4 linked regions of the Homo sapiens genome follow. The protein of the gene in region 4 interacts with the protein of the main gene of each other region in a pairwise test. Each region holds a gene or a part of one and is shown on either strand. Other genes may lie near its edges.

Region 1 (7,299 bases), on a different chromosome or scaffold from region 4:
GCCTGTAATCCCATCACTTTGGGAGGCCAAGGCAGGCGGATCATTTGAGGTCAGGAGTTCGAGACCAGGCTGACCAACATGGTGAAACGGCGTGTCTACTAAAAAAATACCAAAATTAGCTGGGCATGGTGGCACATGCCTGTAATCCCAGCTACTCAGGAGAATCGCTTGAACCAGGGAGGCGGAGGGTGCAATGAGCCGAGATTGCGCCACTGGACTCTAGCCTGGGCAACAGAGTGAGACTCCATCTTAAATAAATAAATAAATAAATAAATTTAGAAATACAAAAATTAGCCAGGTGTGGTGGCACATGTCTGTAATTCCAGCTACTTGGGAGGCTAAGGTAGGAAAATTGCTTGAACCTGGGAGGCGGAGGTTGCGGTGAACTCCGCGCCACTGCACTCCAGCCTGGGCAACAAGAACGAAACTTCGTCTCAAAAAACAAAGAAAAAAAGTTTAGCTTTGGAGTTTAGGCTTGGGTTTTCCAGGGTTACCACTTTTTAGCTGTGTTATCTTGGGCAAATAATGGAAGCTTTCTGAACCTCAGCTGTAAAATAAGGATAACGGTAGTCTCTACCTCTTAGGGTTTTTTATGAAGAGGAAATGAGGTACTGCATGCAAAACATTTGCACAATGCTCACTACTTTGTTGTCATTGTTACTAGTTCCTTTCTCCAGCACCTGCACTTCCAGGATGTTGGCACAGGTCCTTCCTTCCCCATGGGCTAGAAGGAAACTTCCTCCTGTGAGAGCTGTCATAGCTCTTTCTCTTGATTGTCTATGTGGCATTTGGTTTCTGCTCATGTTCATGCTGCCCAAACTCAAAACTTCTCTGTCCTAGACTTTCAACCCCTAGAAGGGAAAGGATGGCTCCATTCTTTTCAATGTCCTTAATAAGAGAACTGCCATCAACACCCATCCAGTGCATTTACAGTTTCCAAAGCATTTCCTCCTCTGCCTTTTCACCTGAGCCAGAATGCAATCCTAGGGAGTGGGAGGGGTTATTATTCCCACTTCACAGATGGGGAAACTGAGGTCCAGGGAGGGGCAGTGACGTCATGGTCAAGCAGCAAGTCGGTGGACAAGAAATTAGGTGTTTCTGGATTGCCAACACAAGTTTCTTTTTGTGGGACAAATAGTTTTGAATATAGAGTTCAAGCCTTTGGTGAAGATCCCGGGGAGCCTGTTCTGCACCTGTGCTAAGTGATTCTTTTCATTCAGCATGCAGTCTGTCCCTGTCTGCTGCCTGCCAGTCTTTCCCCCAAAGTCCCTTCCTGCTTGAAACCCTCCTTCCCTAACCCCAGAGACACCCCTGGCCTGCACTGCCAGCTCTTTCTTCTGAAATACACCTCTCCAACCGGCCCCCATCAGTCTGCTCCATTATCCACCTGGAACCAACCTCCAAACCTCTGCAAGGGCAGATGAGAGTGTCTCCTCCAGCCCTGTTTTCCATGGACTGCTTTGGGCACGGATGAAATTGTTCAGCTTATCCTGCAAGTTCCTCTGCAAGACTGCTTATGTGCTCTAGACTCATAGAACCTGGAATTGAATCCTAGCCCTGCCACATGCTGCCTCAGTTTCCGCATCTAAAATAGGAATAGGGCTGCTGACGTCAAGGGATCATCATGAGGATGAATTGAGAGAGGAATGCCAGGGGGCTGATACGCTTCAAGGAGGGGGTCCAGGAAAGAGAAATGACTTTGAGGAATGCAAGAATGTCCCCTCTGACCTTGCACGTGGCGGTCTTCCGGCCTCAGGACACCCTCCTCCACTTCCCAAGCCTGGGCTAATCTGGTATTCTCCAACTCACTTCCTGTCCTGTAGGTTAGCTCATCATCTCATTATCTGTATCCAGTTCTCTTTCCAGGCTTGCATATTATCTGTGCGGCTACACACACTTGCTAGGTGGGTAGTGAAGGGAGTATTAGGCTCTGCATATGGAAAAGTGGGCCTGGGTGGCCAAGCCCCAGCATATCTCCAAACCTCAATTTCTTGTCTGTAAAATGTGAACAGCAAGAATGTGCACCTTGCTGGGCACGGTGGCTCACACCTGTAATCCCAACACTTTGGGAGGCTGAGGCGGGAGGATCACGAGGTCAGGAGTTCGAGACCAGCCTGGCCAACATGGTGAAACCCTGTCTCTACTAAAAATACAAAAATTAGCCAGGTGTGGGGGTGCGGGCCTGTAATCCCAGCCACGTGGGAGGCTGAGGCAGGAGAATCACTTGAACCTGGGAGATGGAGGTTGCAGTGAGCTGAGATTGTGCCATTGCATTTCAGCCTGGGCAATAGAGTGAGACTCCGTCTCAAAACAAATAAATAAAAAAAGAATGTGCACTTGTGGAATTGTGGTAAGGTTTTAGACCAGCACTGGTCAGCATGGTAGCATCTAGCCACATATGGCTATTTACATTTAAATTAATAAAAGTTTAATGAAGTTTAAAAAATTCAGCCCCTCAGTCTCACTAGCCACATTTCAAGTGCTCGCTGGCCTCCTGTGACTCGTAGCTATCCTACGGACAGCACGCAGAAAGAACATTTCCATCGTGGAGGGAAATTCTGCTGAACAGTGCTGATTTAGAAGCATCACGCCCGTGCTGTGCATCAGCTCTGTGTTATAACTCATCTGACATTGTAAACTCAGGGCAGAAGCATGATTGCAGTGTAAAGTTCTGCTTTCCTTGGAGATGGGGTAAAGAGGTGAGGCTCACAAGGAATGTTGGACTGGTTGAGGGCATTCTCTGGGATGAGGGTGGACCAAGTTCAAAACGGGGAGCTCCGGCTTCTGCTGCAAGGCAGGCACATAGGGCATAATTCCCTCTGCTGGTGGAGAAGGGGCACCAAGCAGTGGGAAGGGTGGTTAACTGGAGAGTGTTTCTAGCATCTAGAGCTACCAGTGTTTGACTTTTCAAAGGAAAAGTGGCTATGTGGTTTTGCAAACGTGTTACAAGCTCTCTCCATTTTTATCGTATTTATTGTATCACTAGCTAGACTAATAAAGAAAAAAGAGAAGATACAAGTAAACATAATCAGAAAGGGCAAAGAGGACATTACCACCGACCCCATACAAACACAAAAAAGCCCTCAAAAACTATTATGAACACGTCTATGCACACACACTAAAAAACTTACAATAAATAGATGAATTCCTGGAAAGATACAACCTTTTTTTTTTTTGCCAGAGAATGGAATTCCAGATCCTGGGTTGTTAGAACCTTAAGGGATACTTTCATCCCCTGGTTCCTGTACAGGGAGGAGGAATCTGAGGCTCAGAGAAGTACAGTGACTTGTTTAAGGTCCCTCAGTGAGTTAGGGCAGAGGAAGACTTCTGGCCACAGCTTCCCTGAAGCCAAGGCTAGGCAGAGTGTTGATGTCACCCAGGCAACAGGGATGGTGCCCTCTGCCCACCTAGCAAGCCCTGACTCATGCTCCGCGCCCCTGCTGTGAGAAGTCTCTGCTGACTCCCACCCTGATTGGAGCAGGTTAGTCAGCTTTGAGGTGCAGCCTCCAGTTCTGGCCCCTCCAGTTCCGGGACTCTCATTCGAGGCATTTGGGGCTGTCTCATTTCTGTGCCCAGCACAGGGCTTGGCACAGAGGAGGTGCTTTGTGGGTGCCCGCCAGTCAAGGGTTTCCGTTTTCGTGCCATGTAGGTAACCCCTTGCCATTCGTGCCCTTAGGTAACCCCTTGAGCAGCCTAAAGAAGCCTAGAGACTTCTCCGTTTTTGAGTATATTTTATTGACGTGAAATACACGCACGGAAAAGCGCACAAATCCAAAGTGTACTTCCGCGCATCTTCATAAAGTGAACACACTTGTAGCCTAAGAACCCAACCCTACCAGCGCCCGGCAGGCCCTGGCCCCCTTCCAGTCTCTCCTACTGAACAAGGTTTTTGAGTGAAACCGGCAGGCCGGAGCGTGAGTTTCTGCTTGACGGGGCGGGGTCTGCGCGTGCTGCCCGGCCGTGAGTGTGGGGGGGCCGTGAGTGTGTACGGGGTGGAGTGGCCTGAAGGGGATTAGAGTGCGCGCGTTCGGGTATTAATTTGCCAGGGTTTGTGTGGCGCTCGGGATTGGGGGTTTTTTGGGGGCTCGGGCGTCGACTGTGGGGCGCTGCGGAAGGGTGGGTCGTCCGCGTGGGGTCCTGGAGCGCAGGAGGCGGAGGGGAAGCCGCGCAGGGGCCACTAGGGAGGGGCTCTGGCGGGGTCGCAGGGGCGTGGTCTGCGGGCGTGGGGGCGGGACCTCGGGGCCTCGGGGGCGGGGCCTGAGGGCGCGCGCACGCGTCCGGCGCGCCCCCTCCCGGCCGCCATGTTGGCTGGTGTGTGGGTGTCAAACTGAGCCAGACGCGGCGGTGGCGGCGGCTCCGCGGGCTACGGTCGCTCCCGCCTCTCGAGCGCTGCCGGTGGCCGCAGCGGCGCACCCACGCCGGCCCGGAGGAGCAGAGGTGAGCCACAGCCCGTGGGGCTCCAAGGCCAGAGCGAGTCCCCGGGGCGAGGACCCTCCCCCTCTCCAGGGCGCGGACGCCCCCAGAGCACAGGCTCCCCTACCTCACCAGCCCCGCCAGGGCATGCGCCCCTGCCGCCCCGCTGGTCCCTACGCCAGGCTCTGGGGGATCCCCTTCTTTCCAACCAGGCCCCGCCCCACGGACTGGAGCATGGCCCCCTTCCCATCTGGATCCAGCTTTCCGCTGCAAGGATCTCCCCCCTTACCCGTCCCTATCACCGAGCATCTCCTTTTATGTCCCCAGAGTCCAGGGCGCCCCTTACTCCTACCTCGGATCCTGGAGCCCCGTTCATCTTGGAACAACCCCGCCCCCTCCCCAGAGCACGTTCCTCCTCTCCCCGAGCCCGGCGCCCCTTCCTCCTGAGCCCAGCCTGGTCTCCCGCCAGCCCCCGTGCAGAGCCCGGTCCGGGCGCCCTCCGGGAATCGGGGGAGGGGTCCTTATCTCTGTCCGGGATCCCGCCCGTCTCACCTTTCCTGGGGGCTGTAGCAGGGCCCCCTTCCGTCCTTGGGGACCAGGCTCCCCACTCCCCAGCCCCCACTCCCACGGAACAGCGGGGACGGGGGCGGAAGAGCCAGGCTCCAGCTGCCTTTTGTTCCGCGTGGGATGGCAGAGACCCACCCGGCCCGGCGGTCCTGCTCGGCTGATCCGGGTGGGTGAATGGGTGCGTGGGGTCTGGCCTCTTCCAGGAGAGACTTCCTCTCTCTCCCTGTGGGGCGGCTCCCCTAGAGCCGAGAGCCGAGCGCGTTGGGAGGCTGGCCTTTGCTAGAGGAGTCGGTGCCAACAGGTTTTTGTTTGCGACCTGAAGTTTGCCCAGTGGCTTTCCCTGGGGCAGCTTGAGCTCCCTGTGAATCCCCCCGCCGGAGCTTGTGGAAGGCCGTTTCTCCGCCCAAGGAGTCCGTCTGGGCGACTCCTTCACAGTTGTGCTTCCCTGGGGACGTATCTAAAATCTGTGCTTTAAGAGCGGAGAGGGCTTAACCATCATTAGGGTTCAGATGAGGGAAACTGAGGCCCAGAACTGCAGTAATTTGCCCAAGGTCACGCAGTGATACTGTGTCAGTGCAGAACTAGAAGCTAGGTCTCCAGGCTCTGTTTACCACATTTAATAACTTTTTTATCTTTTAGGGAGATGTTCAGGACCCTACCTTCCCCTTTATTTTTAATATTTATGCAAGAAAGTGGGCAGGAAAATATGAGAAGTAATGAGTTATTCCTTTTCACCTCCAGAAAATATCCTGTGAAAGAAGGGATTGGAACAGGGTGTTAAAATGATGGGAAAAGGTGAATTTTAAGAATCCAAGCTTCCTCTCATTATGTAATATAACGAAGATTTGGCAGAAAACGTGCCTCTTGTAGCTCTAGATACAGAATTTTAGGTGCTGACAAAATCTTATGCTGAATCTGGCACAGCAGTGATTGAGTTAGCATTGATAATTAAGTTTTCATCTGTATTTAAATGAACATCAAAAGGGACTACAATTTGCTTCTGAATGGTACTTGTTCGGTGCTTGTTTTTGGGACAAGTGATTGTGTTGGGGAAGCGCACCTAAACTTTTAAATTTTTTATTTATTTATTTTTTTGAGACGGAGTCTCTGTCACCCAGGCTAGAGTGCAGTGGCACGATCTCGGCTCACCGAAACCTCCGCCTCCTGGGTTCAAGCGATTCTCCTGCCTCAGCCTCCGGAGTAGCTGGGATTACAGGCGCACGCCATCCACCACGCCCGGCTAATCTTTGTATTTTTAGTAGAGACGGGATTTCGCCACGTTGGCCAGGCTGGTCTCGAACTCCTGACCTCATGTGATCCGCCCACCTCGGCCTCCCAAAGTGCTGGGATTACAGGCGTGAGCCAACACTCCCGGCCTAAATCTTTTATTTATCTGTATTTTTACTTTTACATTTTAAAAGCTTATTTATTTCCCTGGTTTTAAAATTGGGCTAGTCATCTTTACCAGTCTCACTGGGCTATTCTTTTGTAAGCAGGGAATGAGATACTGGTTATTAAAGATTTTGGTAAAGTGTAAGTTACTGTAAGGCATGATTCAGGACTGCGTCCCACAAGTCCCCGGACCAGGAGCCAGTTCGGATTGTCTTGTGGGATGTACCAAGTTTCCCTGGTTTACAGAGGCTTTTTGCCTCTCTGAAGCCTGAGCTGGCCAGATGGAGAGCTCTGTGGAAAACTTCCAGCAGTGTGTGTTGGGCCAAGCACTCGAGGTGTGAAGAAATGTAAAACTTTCAAGTGATAATATCTAGCATCGTGTATGCAGCCTTGAAAAATGACCCAACCTTTGTAGAAATTCTCTGTTATCACTAACCCTCTTCCATAATGAGCGGAGGATTTCCCAAGAATTGGGATTCTGATAAGAGTCCTGCAAAAGTTGAAAAGTTTTCGGACTTTTTTTTTTTTTAACTTTAATTAGGAGGAGCGGCAACTTTCGGTTGTGAACTGAAGTACTATGAGATTTTTATGCATGGAATTGTCCTTGTCATACTTTTGGAAAGTACATTAAAATTTTCTAAGTTTTCTGGCGGTTCTCACTGTTCCCCATAACCTTTCTCTCTGGTGTATAGGGGTGTGAAGGACCACGATTGTTGTCATTTTATGACATGTATACCTGGTGACCCTGAGCCTTGGAGAAGTCAAAGGGCTTGGATTTGGGGAATTTTTTTTTTTTTGAGATGGCGTCTCACGCTGTCACCCAGGCTGGAGTGCAGTGGCGCAATCTTGGCTCACTGCAAACCTCTGCCTCCTGGGTTCAAGTGATTCTCCTGCCTAACCTCCCGAGTAGCTGGGACTACAGGCGTG
Region 2 (7,479 bases), on a different chromosome or scaffold from region 4:
CAGCTAAGCAGAGGCACTGAATCAGGGGCATGTTTCTGTGTATAACACAAGGTGTCACTTAATTTTCCTCATTTTATACATTAATTTTTAAATAGTAGTAATTCATGAATATAACACTTTCCTTTGAAAAGAATCATTAATGTTTTCAAACTGTCGGTAACACAGTAACAAAATAGATCCTTTTAGTATCTGAACTGTTCTTTTAGCTTTGGCTGTCTAGTGTAATAGAAAGAGTAATGCACATAGAGATTTTACAGATACTTCCACCATTTCCTAGCTGTGTGACACTGGGCAAATTGCTTGAGTACTGGTTTTCTCATCTTTAAAATGAAGGGTCTTCTAAGTGGTGTTTTTGTGAAATTAAAAAAAAAACCAAAACAAAACTGGAAGGTCATAGCTTCTGTTTCCTTTTTTCCTCCTATTTTGGGGCTTAAGAGTTCACAACTCAAAATAACGATAGTACCAACCAATATAATTTAGGTTTTTTTAATTTGTTTGTTTGTTTTGAGACAAGAGTCTTGCTGTGTCGCCCAGGCTGGAGTGCAGTGGCGCGATCTTGGCTCACTGCATCATCTGCCTACCGGGTTCAAGCAATTCTTGTGCCTCAGCCTCCCAAGTAGCTGGGATTACAAGCTCCTGCCACCATGTCTGGCCAATTTTTGTATTTTCAGGAGAGATGGGGTTTCGCCATGTTGGCCAGGCTGGTCCTGAACTCCTGACCTCAGGTGATCCAACTGCCTAGGCCTCCCAAAGTGTTGGGATTACAGGCATGAGCCACCGCGCCCGGTGAGCATTAACTCATTTAATGCTCAAAATAACCTCATTAACTTAGTACTGAGAGAGAATAGCCTGTTGGAGTGCAGACTTTGGTGTCAAACTTGGTTGGAATCCTGGCTCCACTACTTATTAGCTGTGTGTCTTTGAACAAATTATTTAATCTTGTTATGGTGCAGTTCATTCACCTTTGAAATATGGATACTAATTCATAGGGTTGATGTAACATTTTTTTTTTTGGATACAGGGTCTCGCTCTGTCACCCAATCTGGACTGCAGTGGCGTGCTCTCCGCTGTCTGCAGCCTTGACCTCCCGGGATCGAGGGATCTTACCACCTCAGCCCTCTAAGGAGCTGGGACTACAGGCCACGCCACCATGCCCAGCCAATTTTTTTTTGAGACGGAGTCTTGCTCTGTCGCCCAGGGTGGAGTGCAGTGGTGCCATCTCAGCTCACTGCAAGCTTCGCCTCCCAGGTTCATGCCATTCTCCTGCCTCAGCCTCCTGAGTAGCTGGGACTACAGGCATATGCCACCACGCCCAGCTCATTTTTTGTATTTTTAGTAGAGACGGAGTTTCACCATGTTAGGATGGTCTCGATCTCCTGACCTCGTGATCCGCCTGCTTTGGCCTCCCAAAGTGCTGGGATTACAGGCATTAGGCACCGTGCCTGGCCCCAATTTTTGTATTTTTTGTATAGAAGGGGTTTTGCCATATTGCTCAGGCTGGTCTTGAACTCCTGAGCTCAAGCAATCCACCTGCCTCGGCCTCCCAAAGTGCTGGGATTGCAGGTGTGTGCCACTTAGCCTGATATAACACTTAATAAGTTACTACATGTAAATAGCTGAGAACCGTCCCTGACACAAAGCACTTTACACAGGAGGGACTGATTAAAAACTCTAATGTAAGCAGCCAGTAAAAACAGGTGAATGATAATATGGATCTAGATCTGACAATTTCATTCTTAACCAAGAGAATGGGATGTCTAAAAAAACCTACAGTTGCTGCTTAATTTTAAAAAATCGATTGGGCAGGGCGCAGTGACTCGCTCCTGTAAGCCCAGCAGTTTGGGAGGCCGAGGTGGGTGGATCACGAGGTCAGGAGTTCGAGACCAGCCTGGCCAACGTAGTGAACCTCCCCCCCGTCTCTACTAAAAATACAAAAAATTAGCTGGGCGTGGTGGCAGGCGCCTGTAATCCCAGCTACTCGGGAGGCTGAGGCAGGAGAATTGCTTGAACCTGGGAGGCGGAGGTTGCAGTGAGCCGAGATCGCGCCATTGCACTCCAGCCCACGAGACAGTGCGAAGCTCCGTCTCAAAAAAAAAAAAAAAAAATCGATTGAACTAATTTATTGATCACAGATCTTAGGGCTGGGTCAAGAAATCCTGTATACCAGTTAATGTCTTCATACTATACTTAAGGAAGCAAGTAGGGAGGTAAGTAATCCTGGGCCTCCGAGTAGAATTTAGATCACACCCACACCCACCCACCTGAGCCCCAGACCAAAATGCCCGCAGAGCGTACCCATCACTTTTGTTCAAAATCACTTTCTTCTTAAGGACTTTCCAGACCACTCCATTTAAAATCTCAACCATCCCCCCATCTTTGGAAACTCCCTTTCCTCTGTGGCACGTGCTTTCCAACTAGTGGGTATTAAAAAGTGATAACCTAAAAAGTCCAGGGACGGCAGGTGATGCGGGATTAAGGACTGAGACTCAAAGCTTAATCCTCCTAATATAAATGAAAAAGCTCAATATTCCCATTGCCCTGGTGGGAAGACTGCAAACTGCCAGCTTCAAACTGACCTCTGAGAAAGGAAGGCGGGGTTTAGACGCCAGTGTCTTCGGGAAACCCTGCCCGAGAGTGCCCGCGTCTCCAATTTACTACCAACCCTTGGTGCCCTCCCATCCCAACGTCGCAAATTTACTACCAACCCTTGGTGCCTCCCATCCCAACCTGCACCTGTGGCGACTTTGAGACTTGCCAGCGTTGCACGGAGAGAAGGAAAACAACCGCAACAACAGCCCAGGTCCACTGGAAAGGCACTTCCGGCAAGTGGATTCAGAGAGGCCCCTACTTCCTGAGGGCTGAAAAAAAATGAGTCCGGGTAGGGACTTGACCTGCGCTAATTGGTTCCTAGGCCCGGCTTTCTGTTTGGGGGCCATTCTTAATTTCTAGTTGAATCCAGATGTTGAACGGTCCTTGAAGTTCTATTCCAGGGCTCCCAGGCAGCAGAATCTGCCCACAGAGTTCGGGTAAGTAGAGTGCAAGTACTGAAACAATCTCAGAATGATGGTGGTGAAGGAAGGTAAGAGACGGGATTTTAGGCCCAGTGTGACCTGAATTGCTTGCCATCTGTGGGACTTATGTTTTACTTTGCAAAACAGGGTTTATAAGGCCTATGGGGACACATCTCACTGCATTAGGGCCCTTTACTATCATTTAGAGGGGGAAAAAAGCCCAGTTCTTACATCCATTTTCTTTGCTGGGACCTATAAACTTCATTAAGGGTTAAAGAGCACAAGAGCAGGATTTTCACTTCCATGAAAGGTGTGGTGATAAGGGCCCTAGGCTTGGGGGTGGTTCGGAAAGTCAGATCATTTCTCCTACTGCCCTCGGCTTTATTTCTCGGCTATGTGACCTTGGGCAAGTCCCTTCTCTTATCTAGACTTGTTTCACAGGAAATGGCACCAGGCAATTTTAGTGCCCTTCCGTGTCTATGGATAAAACTGAAGACATGTAGTAGGAGATCTCAGGGGCCCACGCCGGCCAGTCCCTCCAATCCTCCGGATTCTAGGTAGTCTAGCTTCCTGGTTGCCAGCCATTACACGGTTTAGCTTTCCGTGCCGGATGGAGCCACAGCGAAGTCTTCCTTAATAGTAAGCGCTTTTAGTCGAGCTAGGCCTTCAGTTTTATTGCCTTCTCTGTCATGGCAGCGCCGCCCCTTCCAGTAGTGCGATACCCAATGAGACTTCAGGTAGGAGAAACGGCACTGTCGCAAGCGCAGGCTCTCGCCGGAATCCCGCCCTTCGCTTGGGCGGGGGAGTGACGCCTGCGCTCCAGGGGAACTACTACTCCCAGCGGGTAGCGCGGCCGACGCAGCCGCGCAGCCTCCGGGGCCAGGCCGTGTGGCCCGCTGGGGACTGGAGTCTCAACGACGCGCACACGAGAAGTAAGGAGCGGAAGGTGGGAAAGGGCCGGAAAACACACGTTCCTCCGAAACCGGTTTGCAAGTCCTTGTAGAGGTAGTTTCGGGACGCGCACTGGCCAAGGGGCGGGCTGTGGGAGGGTGAAGAAAAAAGGGATACACACATGCATACCCACCCACTCATTCATACGCGCCCAGGCCCTGGAAGTGGGCAAGGGGGTTAGAAGGGGCGTACTAAACTAGGCTTGTCCGTGCCTCAGGCGGCACGAGGAAAGGCAGAGGATTCAATTCTGTAGGGGGCAGAGGTGACCATGCGCCGCCTCAAGCGGCGAAGAAGGGAGCCGGGGGCGGGGCAGGGCATAACCGCCGTTCTGGAGGCCGAACGTTGGCAGCGTAGGGAACTGGCGTCCGGGAGGGTCGCCGGAGCAGTCCCTTGCGCATGCGCTTCTTCAGGTGGGCGTGTGTAAGGCGGGGTCGGACGGGGGATGGGAGGGCCGTGCTGCTGGTCGCTCCTCCTCCTCCACCCGCTCTGCCCCTCCTGGACCTTGTGGGCCGGGCAGCCATTTTGGGAAGAGCTTTGTTATGGTTGTGGACTAGCCGCCTCTGCCGGGTCGACAAGCTGGGGACGCGTCCTCAGACGCAGCGTCTAGTCCCTGGCCATAGCTCCGCCGCTGCCCGGTGAGTGGGAGTTTGGGAAACGGGGCAGTAGGAGATCCTGGAGTCGTTCTGGCGCGGGGCTCCGCCCGGTGCCTAACCAACGGGCTGTTAAAACTAGTTGAAAGAAGCTCTCACACAGGTGGTTGGGTATAGGTCCGACCCGAGAGGGGCGAGCGGAGCCCACGGGTCAAGTGGTTCGGATGCGGCACCCCCGCCTCCCCCGTGCATGGAGCTTTGCACGCGAGCGTCGCCGGGGCTCCGCGAAAGCGCTCCTACTTTAACTTCGGTCGTCGGGTCGGAACGCTCACCTGCGGCTCTTTGGCTCCTCTCCAGGCGATCCGGCTTGGTGCTCGTTGAGTGACTTGGCTTACGGGTTTTTTTCTTTCCTTCTTGAAATGAGAGCTAAGGGCTTTTGTTTTCCTTCAAAGGAAAACCTAAGGAGGAAAAAGTGTAAGTCAAATGTTGGATATCTGAGGGGAAAAAAGTTTTAACCCCCAGCTTTCCGGTTCTCTGTGGTAGCGAGGTGTTTTCGCTTAGATTGAGTCTATCCGATATCTACCAACCTCCTTTCCTTGGAGGGGCAGGGAAAGCTGGTCGATCCTGAAATGTTTTAAGTGTTATTTTTTTTCTGTTGTTTTAAATCTAGTTCTCCCCAACCCGTGAAATTCGAAAGACAGTCTGAATCCAAAATGGCTGTAGCTTGGGGAAGTGCCCTGCCCTTCGATTACTTAAATACATTAACGTTTAAAGATTTTAGTCCTTTCCCCTGTGGGGACATTAACTGAATCTTTTGATATTTTGGTTTTTTGCAGTTGGTGTCTCACCTTTAACTCTCCTTATGCTGGGTGAAAACAAAGGTGAGGCTCACAAAGTTGACTATTCCAAAAGTTTACATAAGAATGGGTGCGGTGCGGTGGTGTGTGTGTTTAATAGTTGCTTATAGTTTTGAAATTGTGCTGTGGTGTCAATTTTATCTGCCAACTTCGTGCTCTGAAGTTGGCTTGTCATATTTGTTGAAATATTTTTAACATTGACATTTATTGCTTACCAGAAAAATACAGTTAATAATAGTGGTTCATGTTTTAGTTTAGTAGTAAGTCGTGTTCTTGTGTAAATCTTATCCAAAAGTAAAGTGATTGGTAGTCACTCCTCATTAGACTTATATTTGTAATTTAGTAGACTGCTGATCTTTTCTAAGGTCTTTTTTATCCAATATTTGAAAGGAAATTAGGGTGCTATTAAGTTTGAGATATTTACTAGAATAGTGTAAGACATTTTAACAAGTGAAAACATACTTTAGGTATGGAGTACCTGATTGTCGTGCCCTTTTGAACAAGAGACTGTCTTTTGTTTGCTTTTTTTTTTTAATCGATAGATCCAGAAGTTTAAACAAAAAGTCATAGATTGGAAACCAAAACCAATAAATTTCAATATTTGGAAAGGTGCTGAAGCCTGTATCTATTTAAAAGATAAAAGAGTGAAATGCTAATTGTGAATGAGAACTTTGAAATTAATAGTAAAATAAACTCATCTTTCCTAGGGAGTCAGTTTTCAATGTACCTTTTGACGTTTTTTCAAATACAAAAGTTGGTTTTTGTTAATACCCCTAGGATTTTTTGTTGTTGTTGTTAAATTATTTTGGTGGTTTTACAGGAAAAATATTTAAAGTTTTTAATAGAAATTACAAGCTAGTTGCTTTGTGTTTTGTCACTGTTAACTACTAAACTGGAGTGAGATATTGATTTTTTGGGGGGGTACTCAGTGGTTTGTACATGTTAATATAAACATTCAGTTGATTCTGGATGGTGTCTTTATCAGAGCTCTTGATTTGTGGTGTGGGGGGAACTCTTGGGGAAACCTTTATTTTGAGCGAATTCAATTTACTAGATTGCTCATCAGTGGCTGTTAAAATGCTTAGCTGAGGAGGACACATTCAACCATTTAAATTTAGAATGATAAGAAATCTGGTGCACATTTCTGCTTGTAATTCATTTTTAATTTTGAGTTAAAGATAAGACACAATCGTGAATCATACTTCAGAAGATTGCATATCTTTATTTTATGGCTATAACTCTGATGTGCCAGGGACTGACTGCTGTTTAAAGTGCTTTGTATTTGTTACTTACTTTTTTTTCCTTCTTTTCTTTTCTTTTTCTTTTTTTTTTTTTTTTTTTGAGACGGAGTTTCGCTCTTGTTGCCCAGGCTGGAGTGCGGTGGCTTGATTTCTGTTCACTGCAACCTCCGCCTCCTGGGTTCAAGCGATTCACCTGTCTCAGCCTCCCGAGTAGCTGGTATTACAGGGGCTCACCACTACGCCTGGCTAATTTTTTGTATTTTTAGTAGAGATGGGTTTCACCATGTTGGCCAGGCTGGTCTTGAACTCCTGACCTCAGGTGATCCGCCTGCCTTGGCCTCCCAAAGTGCTGGGATTATAGTCATGAGCCACCGCCCCCGCCCGGCTTGTTGTTTACTTTTATAAGTATACTGGTTTATTTGTTTTGTTTTGTTTTTGATACGGGGTCTCACTCTGTCACCCAGATTGGAGTGCGGTGGCATGATTTCAGCTCACTGCAGCCTCCACCTCTCAGGCTTAAGCAGTCCTCCCACCTCAACCTCCCTAGTAGCTGGGACGACAGGTGCGTGCCACCGCACCCAGCTAATTTTTTTTTTTTTTTTTTTTTGTATTTTATTAGAGAGGAGGGGGAGGGTTCATCCTATTGCCAAGCTGGTCTCGAACTCAGGGACTCAAGCAATGGTCTCGAACTCAGGGACTCAAGCAATCTGCTCACTTTGGCCTCCCAAAGTGTTGGGATTACAGGCGTGAGCCACAGCGCCAGGTCTAAGTAGATACTGTTTTATACCCTATTTTGTAGTTGAGGAAAAGGAGTCCAGAGATTCATCCA
Region 3 (7,035 bases), on a different chromosome or scaffold from region 4:
TGAGGAAGGAGTGACTCCAGGCCATACACAGACAGATGGAGAGGCTAGAGACTGGGAGGTGGGGGTGTGGAAGCTGGGCCACCAGTTCCTGAGGGGGCAGGGGAGATGAGTGAAGGAGCGCCAAGGTCACCAGAAGAATGGAGCAGGCTTCCCCAGGGGCTCCCTGTGGCTTGGGCACCCCTGCCTCCTGGCCCAGCGTGCTTTCTTCCGCAGCCCGTGCTGCCAAGGCAGAAAGCTAAGGTGAGCAGACGAGATCTTCCCCGAGAGAACCCTGGCTGGGTGGGTAGCGTTCTCTGGAAGGGTAGCCTGGATTGGGGGACTCTTGTTGAAGAAAGGTGGCAGGTGTCCATGGCCCCTGGCAGGTGGGGCTGGCACTGCCCATGCTGTTCCTCAGCTGGGGCTCAGTGCTGGGCTGCCCTCGGGACTGTCGCTCACCAGGCACTCGTTGGATTTGAAGCTCGCCAGGGACTTGCAGCTGGGAATGGAGGCCAGGGAGCCGCAGAGGCCCAGCATGGAGGGCGTGGGGTCCTTCCCTGGGGAGAGAGGGCAGGTGAGGCCAAGCGACCAGTCTACATGTGTGGGAGTTGGTAGAGGGGTGGGCAGTGAAGGGGCAGCCCTCAAGTCACCCCCCAGGAGACCTTGGCATATTCCACAGCATTTGCCATTTTCAGTTAAACTTTGGTTAAGCACCTGCCTGTGCCAGGCACCGTGCTGGGGACACTGTATTGTAATCGTCAGTTGATGTCTCTGTCTCCCCGTGAGGGTCATCCTCTCTCTTTGTCCATTTATTAAATACACAGTGAGCACTCGCTCTGTTCCAAGCACTGGGGATACAGAGAACGGACAAGACACGGTCCCTGCCCTCATGGAGCTCACAGTCTGGTGGGGGAGACAGACACACAGACAATCACAAACACAGTGTGATGGGGCTACATGGCCACAGCCTGCCTTGTCTCAAAGAAGATCTAGGGTCATCCAATACAGTGTGGTTGCTTATAAAAAAGAAAAGACAGGATATTCAGGCATAGGGAGAACTAGGATGGGAAAAACCAAGGTGAAGCCAGGGATGAGGTCAACACAAAGTGCATGCGTTGAAGTCCTGGGCATTCGCTCGAAGGGAGCCACTAATTTGGCTCTGAGCTTCCTGGCAGCCAAAGAGAAGGGGGAAACAATGGTCAGGCAAGTAGTTCACAGTGTGCATGAGATAAGAGCAAATTAGTCTAAGGAGTTCCCCGAGAGTTTGTGAGCCCCCGAGGATGTCATGACACTAAAAAACCACTGAGCCCTCACCATGTGACAACATTGGTGATTATCAACATCCCCATTTACAAAGAATAGACTCATGGAGGTAAAGTGATTGACCAAGCTCACATGGTCAGAGGAGGCACAGCCAGATTTATGCTGGGTTCTGCATATGCTGTGTTCTGCCACCTCAAAGTAAGCTCTCGATTGCTGTGCTAAACCCTCAAGAAAGGCTGAGAGAGGCCGGGCACAGTGGCTCACACCTGTAATCCCAGCACTTTGGGAGGCCAAGGTGGGTGAATCACTTGAGGTCAGGAGTTCGAGACCAGCCTGGCGAAACTCCGTCTCTACTAAAAATACACAAATTAGCCGCGCGTCTCTACTAAAAATACACAAATTAGCTGCGCGTGGTGGCAGGCGCTTTTAATCCCAGCTACTCGGGAGGCTGAGGCAAGGGAATCCCTTGAACCCGGGAGGCAGAGGTTGCAATGAGCTGAGATTGCGCCACTGCACTCCAACTTGGATGACAGAGTGAGACTCCGTCTCAAAAAAAAAAAAAAAAAAAAGACTAAGAGAATGAATGAGGACATGCCTTGAGGCCTCAGGGCCTTGCCTCAGCCCTTTCTGGAGGGGTACTGGGTGTTGGGTTGGGGGAGCTCACCGATGGGACCCCAGGGCTCCTCGTCCCGCGTGCCCTCTCCCAGGCGCTGGGAGTCCGAGCTCAGACTGGCTTCAGCTGACAGCGGCTCCGTGCTCATGAAGCTGTGTCTGCGGCAGAGCGAGAGCTGGTGCGCCGGTAGAGGAAGCCCTTCTTCCCCAGGACGACCCGCTCTCAGGCCCAAGCCCCACCTGGCTGGGGCTTACCTCCGGTAGAGCTTGGAGTTGCTGGCGCCCTCGGCCCCATTAAGCGTTCCCAGTGAGGGCCATTGATTGACCAGGGGTGTAGTGAGCTCCTTGGAACCCTGGGCCAGAGGGGCGTGGTCACTGGGGATCAGACCTGTCCTGGGAGGGGGAGGAGGAGTCAGGCCTGGCTGGAAGTAGGAGAAGTGAGGAAGGGAGATTCAGCAAGGGGATGAGGGAGGGGTCAGGAATGAAATCTGAGCGGCAAAAATGGGGATACGGTGTTGGGGTCAGTGGGCCAGATCCCGGGAGGAAGTGGAGGTGGTACTGGGGTGGAGGGGTGACAGGGATTCGTGCACAAATATTGGGAGTTGGAGGGAATGGTGCAGTGTTGTTGGGGTCAGCTGGGGTGATGGGGACGTCAGTGGAGGATAGTGTGGGAATCCCTGAAGTGTAAGATCGTCTTGGGGATCTTGCCGCAAGATCAGGGTGGTGGAAAGGCGTAGAGAAGAAGTGTTACAGGGATCGGCAGGGGTGAGGTCGGGGGTCACGGCGGATGATGACGGTCAGTGAGCCTGTGGTGCAGGTGAGTGAGGCGATGAATGCAATCGTGTTGAAGGTTGCAGAGCAACACCGCAGGTCCTTGTGAGTGACGTGGGGTCCCTGCAGTAAGGTTGGATGGCCACTCTAGCGGAAGATAACTGAAGGTGAAGGGTGGGCTCTGGCTGTTGGAAGTCACTGGATCTTATGCTGGGGGCAATGTTAGAAGATCATTGTGGGCATCTCGGGGTGGGGCTGGCTGGATCAGAGGGTTGATGCTGGAGAGGTGGGTGCTCGTGTCGGGTGATGTTAGAGTCGATGGAAGTGAAGATGGGGTTCACCCGGTGATGTGGTCGGGGCGGCGGGGGTCAGGGGTTAGGGCAGGCCGTGCGCTCACAGCTGCTCCTGCAGCTCCAGGATCACGCCTTCCAGCTCCCGTTTCTCGCGCTGGTTCTGCGCCGCCGCCTCCTCCAGCTGCAGCTGAAGCCGCCGGTTCTCCGCCTCCAGGTCCTTCAGCTGCGACTCGCGCAGACGCACCAGCTCCTCCAGGTAGCCCTGCGGGGCGCCGGCTCAGCCCGGGCGGCTGGGAGGACGTCCCGGCCGCGGCCCCCATCCCCGCCCCGCCCCGGGATGCCCGGATCCCCCGCCCGGCCCGCCCGCCCCCCGGGCCCGCCGGCGTCGCGCACCTTCTGCGCGTAGACGATGCGGAACTTCTGCTCCATCTTGTGCCACTTGCTGTACCAGCTGTCCTCATCGGTGACGAGCGGGAGGTACGGGTGCTCGGGCGAGTTGTCCTCGCTCGTGCTGCTCTCGGCGCTGTGCCGCTCCTCCTCGTCCGTCAGGTAGTCGTAGCTTGGGAGAGGGAGCAGTGGGCACGGCCGGTCCCGCCCCTCCCCCCGCGCGTCTGCGCTGGCCGCTGAGGGCGGTGGGACCAGGACGTCCCCAGGATGTCCCGAGGCCCCGTCCCCCGCCCCGCCGCAGTCATGGAGCCGCTCACCTCTGCGTGAACTTTAGGTAGGGCGTGTAATCGATGACCACGGGGGTCTTCCCGTCCAGGACTTCCCCCTTTAGACAGAAGCTGAGGCAGAGGAGCCACAGGGTTGGAGGTGGGTGTGAGGGGTTGGGGTAGGACATTTATGGGGGAAACAGCCCCCTCCACCACTGCCGTCAGGCAGACCCCACCTGAAGTCGATGGCGCTCAGTCCGATCAGCATTCCGGTGAGGATGGTGGCTTCATCCCGCAGCATGATGGCTCCAGAGTCATAGAACCGTCTGTGGGGAGGCAGAGGGCCAGAGGATGCAGCAGGCCCCTGGAGCGCCCCCCCCCCCCCCAGAGCTGCTATTGTTGGCTTACTGCCACCCCATCCTGAAGGAAGGCCAATTCTCCTTCCTGATCTGCACGCAGGCCTGGAGCCTCTCTCCCCCTTCAGCCTGGGGCTCGCACCTGTGGCCCCATCACCTAGAATGGGTGTTCCCTGAGCCGACTCCTCCCTCTGAGCTACCCCTTCCTCATCAAGTACTGGGTTACCCAGATCCTTCATATCAGGAAGCAAGTCTTAATCATTAGTGCTTGGTATACAGTAGGTGCGCAAAAAACGTGTTAACTTGAAACGTGTAGACTGAGGAATGGAATTCAGTAAAAACATCAGGCTGGGTATGGCCAATTGGGATGGGGAGGTATATGCCCCCCGCCACACCCAGACAGCTTCAGATGCACCTGCCCACACAGGCACACTCCTCCTTGTAACCCCTTGCCTCAGGCACCCAACCTCCCTGTGAACCCACAGTGCAGGGATTGAACTCCCCATATAAGGACTCTGTGTCCGTGAATAGCAAGTACAGAACTGCTTTCGTTGTTTGGAGAGACAGAAGGGCTGTGTTGTAGATCATGGAGCAAGCCAACACTTGAGATGGTGCATGGCTGAGGCTCATCCAGAGGTGTGCAAGGGTGGAGCGTGCTGGGCATTGATGGCAAATAATGGGCATTAGATTTGACTTGCAAGTGGTGGTGGTGGTGGTGGTAAAAGTTTGTCCTGGGGCCAGGAGCGGTGGCTCATGCCTGTAATCCCAGCACTTTGGGAGGCCAAGGCGGGAGGATCACCTGAGGTTGGGAGTTTGAGACCAGCCTGACCAACATGGAGAAACTAAAAATACAAAATTAGCTGGGCATGGTGGCGTATGCCTGTAATCCCAGCTACTCAGGAGGCTGAGGCAGGAGAATCGCTTGAACCCAGGAGGCGGAGGTTGCAGTGAGCCGAGATCGCGCCATCGCACTCCAGCCTGGGCAACAAGAGCGAAACTCCTTCTCAAAAAAAAAAAAAAAAAAAAGAGTTCGTCCTGGGACTGCAGGCCAGGCTGGAAGAGGGAAATCAGCCATGTGTGCTGGTGCTGGGACTTGTAGTCCAGGAACTGAAGGATGCTGCAGGAACTTAAGGATCAGCTGTGTTTGGGCAATGCAGGTGCACTCTGAGACCTGTGGTCTGAGTTGCCTGGGAAGTCTGACCTGGTGGTCCGGGTGTCACGCAGAGCCGTGGTGATGTATTCTGACATGCGCTTCTCCATCAGTGCCACCCGGATCCATGCCCGGCCCTGGAAATCATGTTCACCTTTACTTGCTGCCCCAGAGGGACTCATGTGTCCAGCATCAGGTGTGGGCCCTTCTCCCCTGGGCTGTGCACAGGGGGCAAAAACCAAGAAACAGGCAGGCCCCCTGTGTCCAGAGCAGAGAGCAGTTGCTTGCTTCAGGCCCCTCACCTTGGCCCGGGCTGTGCTGATGTTCTCCATGTTCTCGATGCTGCTCACACAGTTGTTGGGCACTTTGCTGCAGGCCAGCCGGATATAGTCCCAAAAGCCCCGCTGCCCGTCTGAGCTGAACCAGCTCACTGGACCTGCTGGGGCACAGGCTGAGCCAGGGCAGGGAGGGGGCTCAGCAAGACCAGGGAGTTTGGAGAGGGTCCATGTAGTGAGGCACTCACATGCATAAGCATAAGCAGCCTCCTCCCACAAAGATCTGTGCACACACATGCACGTGTGCAGTGGGCACCCCAGCATATCGCTTGCCCATGATGGGGATTGTAGGCCAAAGGCCTCTCCCTCTTCCCAGATCTGTACACAAGCTTCTGTGCATGGCCCAGAATGGGGGCCAGGGTCAATGAGGGGGTTCAGAGTCCATGGAGTATATCAGAAAGAGGTGGCTGGGAGCTAAAGGTTGGGAGTTGGGGAGGGACCGCTGGGGGAGGGGCGCTGGGGGAGGGACCACTGGGGGAGGGGCGCTGGGGGAGGGACCGCTGGGGGAGGGGCGCTGGGCCCACCTTTGAAGCGGTGGCTGAGGATCTGCTCTAAAATGGCTGCAAAATTGACAAACTCCTCCGATGAGTCATCGATGGGCTCCGCTGTGTACTTCTCCAGCAGCGTTTTCACAGAGAACCTGGGCGGCGAGGTGGGGAGATGGGGCAGTGGGGTGTCAGGTGAGGAAACAGGTGATGGAGGGAGAGACAGGGAGCAACCGGCAGAGAAGAAAGGTCAGGAAGGGCATGGATGTGGTGGGGGGCAGAGCGAGTGGGGAGACAGGCAAGACTACAGTGACCATAGAGGTACCGTGTCATGTGGAGTGAGAGGGTGGCAGATGGGGAGGAAGGGTGACAGGTGGGAGACTGATTGACAAAGTGGGTGACAGGAGAGGTGACAGCCAGAGAAAGGAAGCTTCGGGAGCAAGGGGTGAGAGGGACTGAAAAAATAGGAAGATGAGGCACAAGCCGGGGGCGGTCCAGGAGCCCCTTCCCCATAGACCACCCTTCAGGGTCTGTGTGTGCGAGGCCTGGGTCAACTAGGTGTTAGAAGCCAGTGTGTGCCCCACCTGAGCTGTCTTCTGTGATTGCTGGAGCAACCTTCAGTCCCTTTTGGGGATGGGGGTCACCTGTACCAGGGCATGTGAGTTGGCACTGTGCACATGGAGTGTGGGCATGCGCAGGTGGCCAGGTGGGCTCCCAGTACACAGATACCCCCTTCCCCCCTTTCCTTCCCGGCTTGGCCTCCCACACACCAGCTGCCCAGAACCAGGCAGTGCAGAGCTGGGCGGGGGTGGGGTGGGGAGGTGCGGGGTATGGGCCTGACACAGACACTGGGCAGGAGGGGGCATTGGCAGCAGATCCCTGGAAGGGGCTTGGGGGCCTGGCTTCTTTGGGAGGAAGGGACTAAGGGAAGCCTGTGGGGCTGAAGGACTGAAGCCATGCAGTGCCCCCTCTCCAGTCCTGTCTAAGCCTCAGGCTCCCTCTGCAGTCACTACCCCTGCAATCTCCCCCTGCCATCCCTGCAATGGAGTAGGGCAGGGATGAGGACACAGTTCCTAACATCCCATGATTTCCCTGCTGTGGGTGGCAGAGCAGGGGCGGGGTGTCCAGGGAAATGGGAGCT
Region 4 (3,037 bases):
AATATGTTACCCTACCCTCAAGGATTTTACAGTCCAGTTGGTGAATGGAATAGGTCGTGCATAGTACAAGTCAATAGGCACAAGCACATGAACAAATCAGACAGTAGGGGTCATGGTATATAAGAGAAGGGTGATCCAGAAATACCAAAAAGTATCTATGCAGAGTGTGAGTCAACACTGTGTACATAAAACTAAGTTTTTAGGCCCAGTTAATTAACATTGCTGTTTTTACTTTTTCATTAGCATGTTGGCAGATAAATTGAACATGACTCCAGAAGAAGCTGAAAGGTGGATTGTAAATTTGATTAGAAATGCAAGACTGGATGCCAAGATTGATTCTAAATTAGTGAGTATTATGTTAGCTATGCTACATACTATCAGTTCCTGATTATACTTTTGGGAATTCTTAACTAGGACATTTTATTACCTCCTTTAATAATTTATTTTGTTTTAATGTAAAACAGTTCTTTGAAGGCAACAGAAGCCTCCTATTTTTTTTCTTCCTTGGTAAATATTGTCATCTCTATACAGTGCATTAAAATATGCGCAAAGGTATGTCATGCTTTTTACTTACCTGAGAAACTCAGTCATTAACATTATAGGATCAATTTCCCTGTGTTTCCTTTTAGGGTCATGTGGTTATGGGTAACAATGCAGTCTCACCCTATCAGCAAGTGATTGAAAAGACCAAAAGCCTTTCCTTTAGAAGCCAGATGTTGGCCATGAATATTGAGAAGAAACTTAATCAGAATAGCAGGTCAGAGGTAAGAACCACACATCTTCTATTCTGTCTGGGGTTTAGCAACCATGTAATTGTTACATGAAGTTTCAAAGTGTATTGATGAGTTGTAGCTGATTTTGTTTTTCTCTTTAAAGATATGAACATTTTTAAGAAATTACTAAACAGAAAATTTTTTCTTAGATGTATTATATGCATTAAACATAGAAACTGAAAAAGAAATTGTGTTCCTAGTTTATTATAACTATTTTTCTTTTGCTTTGACTCTTCCTGTGTGACTTCATTAACTCATTTCCTCAGGGTTTTCAACACATCATTTTGATACTGGCAGATGATAACTTACATGTGTAGCCCTCTTTCAAGTGTTCGAAATGTGTATTCTTTCTAAATCTAAAGAAATAATTCTGTAAAAATGTTGATCTTATTATATGTATTAGTGCTGATCTTATACAAATTTCATTATCTTTCATCTGATATTCATATCAAAAATTAATCTCCCATTTTGATAGAGATCCTGCATGTTAGAGATTGAAGAAACTTGAATGGCCTTATAATTTTGGAATCCTAAACTGTGTTGTTTAGACATTATGATTATGTGTAACTGGAGGGTAGGAAGTCATTAGGAAGCAGTTGTGGGATATGCAGAGACCCCATTTGATTGAAATTTTAGGAACAAATTTGTGTCCGCAGAATAATCCTTTAGTTCAAATGAGAAGGATGCATTAGAATTCAAGTTGCATATTTTAGCCAAGTTTAGAATAACTGAGCCTAGAAAGTAACTTTCATATGATGTTTTTTTCTGTATGCTTTAGGATTAATTTGTATCATTTATTGTTCCAGTATTAATGATACTGTTATTGCTATATATTTTAATTGGCCAAAAGCTATACCAGATAATAATTTTGGTGTTTGTTTTGTCCTGAGTGGGACATCTGACATCTAGTAATTGCAGGAGTTAAGATCTTAGAATGGTTTGGCAAGAGACTATAGTGCTGAAGTAAATGCTGTGTTACTTTCTTCTATGTTAGTTTTTTTCCGAAAGTATTTTCTTTTCACGGTGTTGATTTCTTTTTGCATATTTTAGGCTCCTAACTGGGCAACTCAAGATTCTGGCTTCTACTGAAGAACCATAAAGAAAAGATGAAAAAAAAAACTATCAAAGAAAGATGAAATAATAAAACTATTATATAAAGGGTGACTTACATTTTGGAAACAACATATTACGTATAAATTTTGAAGAATTGGAATAAAATTGATTCATTTTATCTTGCTGTCAGTTTTCTTGCATGTGCAAGTTTGTGTTTTTTTAACTTTCTTTTTTGGAATAATTATATTCAGAGGAATTTGCAAAAATAGTACAGAGAAGTCCCTGTAGGCTGAACCCTGTTTCCCTCAATTTTTTCACTTTGTCTTACTATGGTACAGTATCAAAACCAGGATGTTGACATTGGTACAATGTGTGTACAAATAGCTCCCTACCATTTTATCACGTGTAGATTTGTGTAACCATCACTGCAGCCAAGATAGAGAACTATCATCATGATCTCCCTCATGCTACCTTTTTGTAGCCATACCTACTCCCAACCAACTCTAACCCTAGGAACCACTAATCTGTTCCTCATCGCTATATTTTGTCATTATGAGAATGTTATATAAATGGAATTACATAATACACAACCTTTGAGATTAGCTTTTTTCATTCATCACAATGCTCTTGAGAGCCATCCAAGTTGAGAGATAGATATATATATATATATGATCAGTAGTTAATTCCTTTTTTATTGCCAAATAGTATTCCATGGTATTGATGTGCCACGTGGTTTAACTGGTATTGATGTGCCATGTGGTTTAACCATGTACCTATTGAAGGATATTTTAGTTGTTTCCAGTTTGGTACTATTACAAATAAAACTGTTGTTCCTTAATTTCTTAAAAGTGGCTCCTCAGTCACTCACTGTATAGTTACGGAGACTAGGCATATAAGTTGAATTTTATAAGTGTCAAATGTTAAATACAGACATACTGTTTACTGGATACTGGAGGTATTTAAGAGCTACAGAGCCCTCACTGGGTCCCTTTTTTACATAGAAGTGGCTTGATTTTTCACTTTGGTTGAACTGACAGCCAGTCAGATAACAGAAACTTGTTGCTGCTCTCAAGGAGGAGGTTCAAAGATAAAAAGGTACATACTGTTCTTTTATTTGACATCTGATCAGGCCACCTTCCATACTCAGTTTAGAGACTACGGTAGTTAGGTTGCATCTGCCATTCAAAGAGCATGGAGACCTCCCAATACTA

The links.
Region 1: the proteins of EIF3E (region 4) and EPN2 interact in binary tests that used the Homo sapiens proteins (3 or more experiments, as listed by UniProt).
Region 2: the proteins of EIF3E (region 4) and GPBP1L1 interact in binary tests that used the Homo sapiens proteins (3 or more experiments, as listed by UniProt).
Region 3: the proteins of EIF3E (region 4) and RUNDC3A interact in binary tests that used the Homo sapiens proteins (3 or more experiments, as listed by UniProt).

Annotation. Positions count from the first base shown.
Region 1 is NC_000017.11:19,233,095-19,240,393, forward strand, and holds the start of EPN2 (epsin-2), read left to right. Parts: upstream 1-4,271; 5' UTR 4,272-4,437; intron 4,438-7,299. UniProt on the Homo sapiens protein: Plays a role in the formation of clathrin-coated invaginations and endocytosis.
Region 2 is NC_000001.11:45,683,530-45,691,008, reverse strand, and holds the start of GPBP1L1 (vasculin-like protein 1), read left to right. Parts: upstream 1-4,475; 5' UTR 4,476-4,597; intron 4,598-5,388; 5' UTR 5,389-5,433; intron 5,434-7,479. UniProt on the Homo sapiens protein: Possible transcription factor.
Region 3 is NC_000017.11:44,311,594-44,318,628, reverse strand, and holds part of RUNDC3A (RUN domain-containing protein 3A), read right to left. Parts: intron 6,050-7,035; coding exon 5,934-6,049; intron 5,526-5,933; coding exon 5,377-5,525; intron 5,212-5,376; coding exon 5,126-5,211; intron 3,895-5,125; coding exon 3,805-3,894; intron 3,701-3,804; coding exon 3,620-3,700; intron 3,475-3,619; coding exon 3,309-3,474; intron 3,178-3,308; coding exon 3,020-3,177; intron 2,245-3,019; coding exon 2,107-2,244; intron 2,011-2,106; coding exon 1,904-2,010; intron 1,593-1,903; coding exon of another isoform or gene 1,506-1,592; intron 1,145-1,505; coding exon of another isoform or gene 1,125-1,144; exon of another isoform or gene 768-1,124; intron 534-767; coding exon 391-533; 3' UTR 1-390. UniProt on the Homo sapiens protein: May act as an effector of RAP2A in neuronal cells.
Region 4 is NC_000008.11:108,200,710-108,203,746, reverse strand, and holds the end of EIF3E (eukaryotic translation initiation factor 3 subunit E), read left to right. Parts: intron 1-243; coding exon 244-346; intron 347-629; coding exon 630-764; intron 765-1,823; coding exon 1,824-1,862; 3' UTR 1,863-2,531; downstream 2,532-3,037. UniProt on the Homo sapiens protein: Component of the eukaryotic translation initiation factor 3 (eIF-3) complex, which is required for several steps in the initiation of protein synthesis.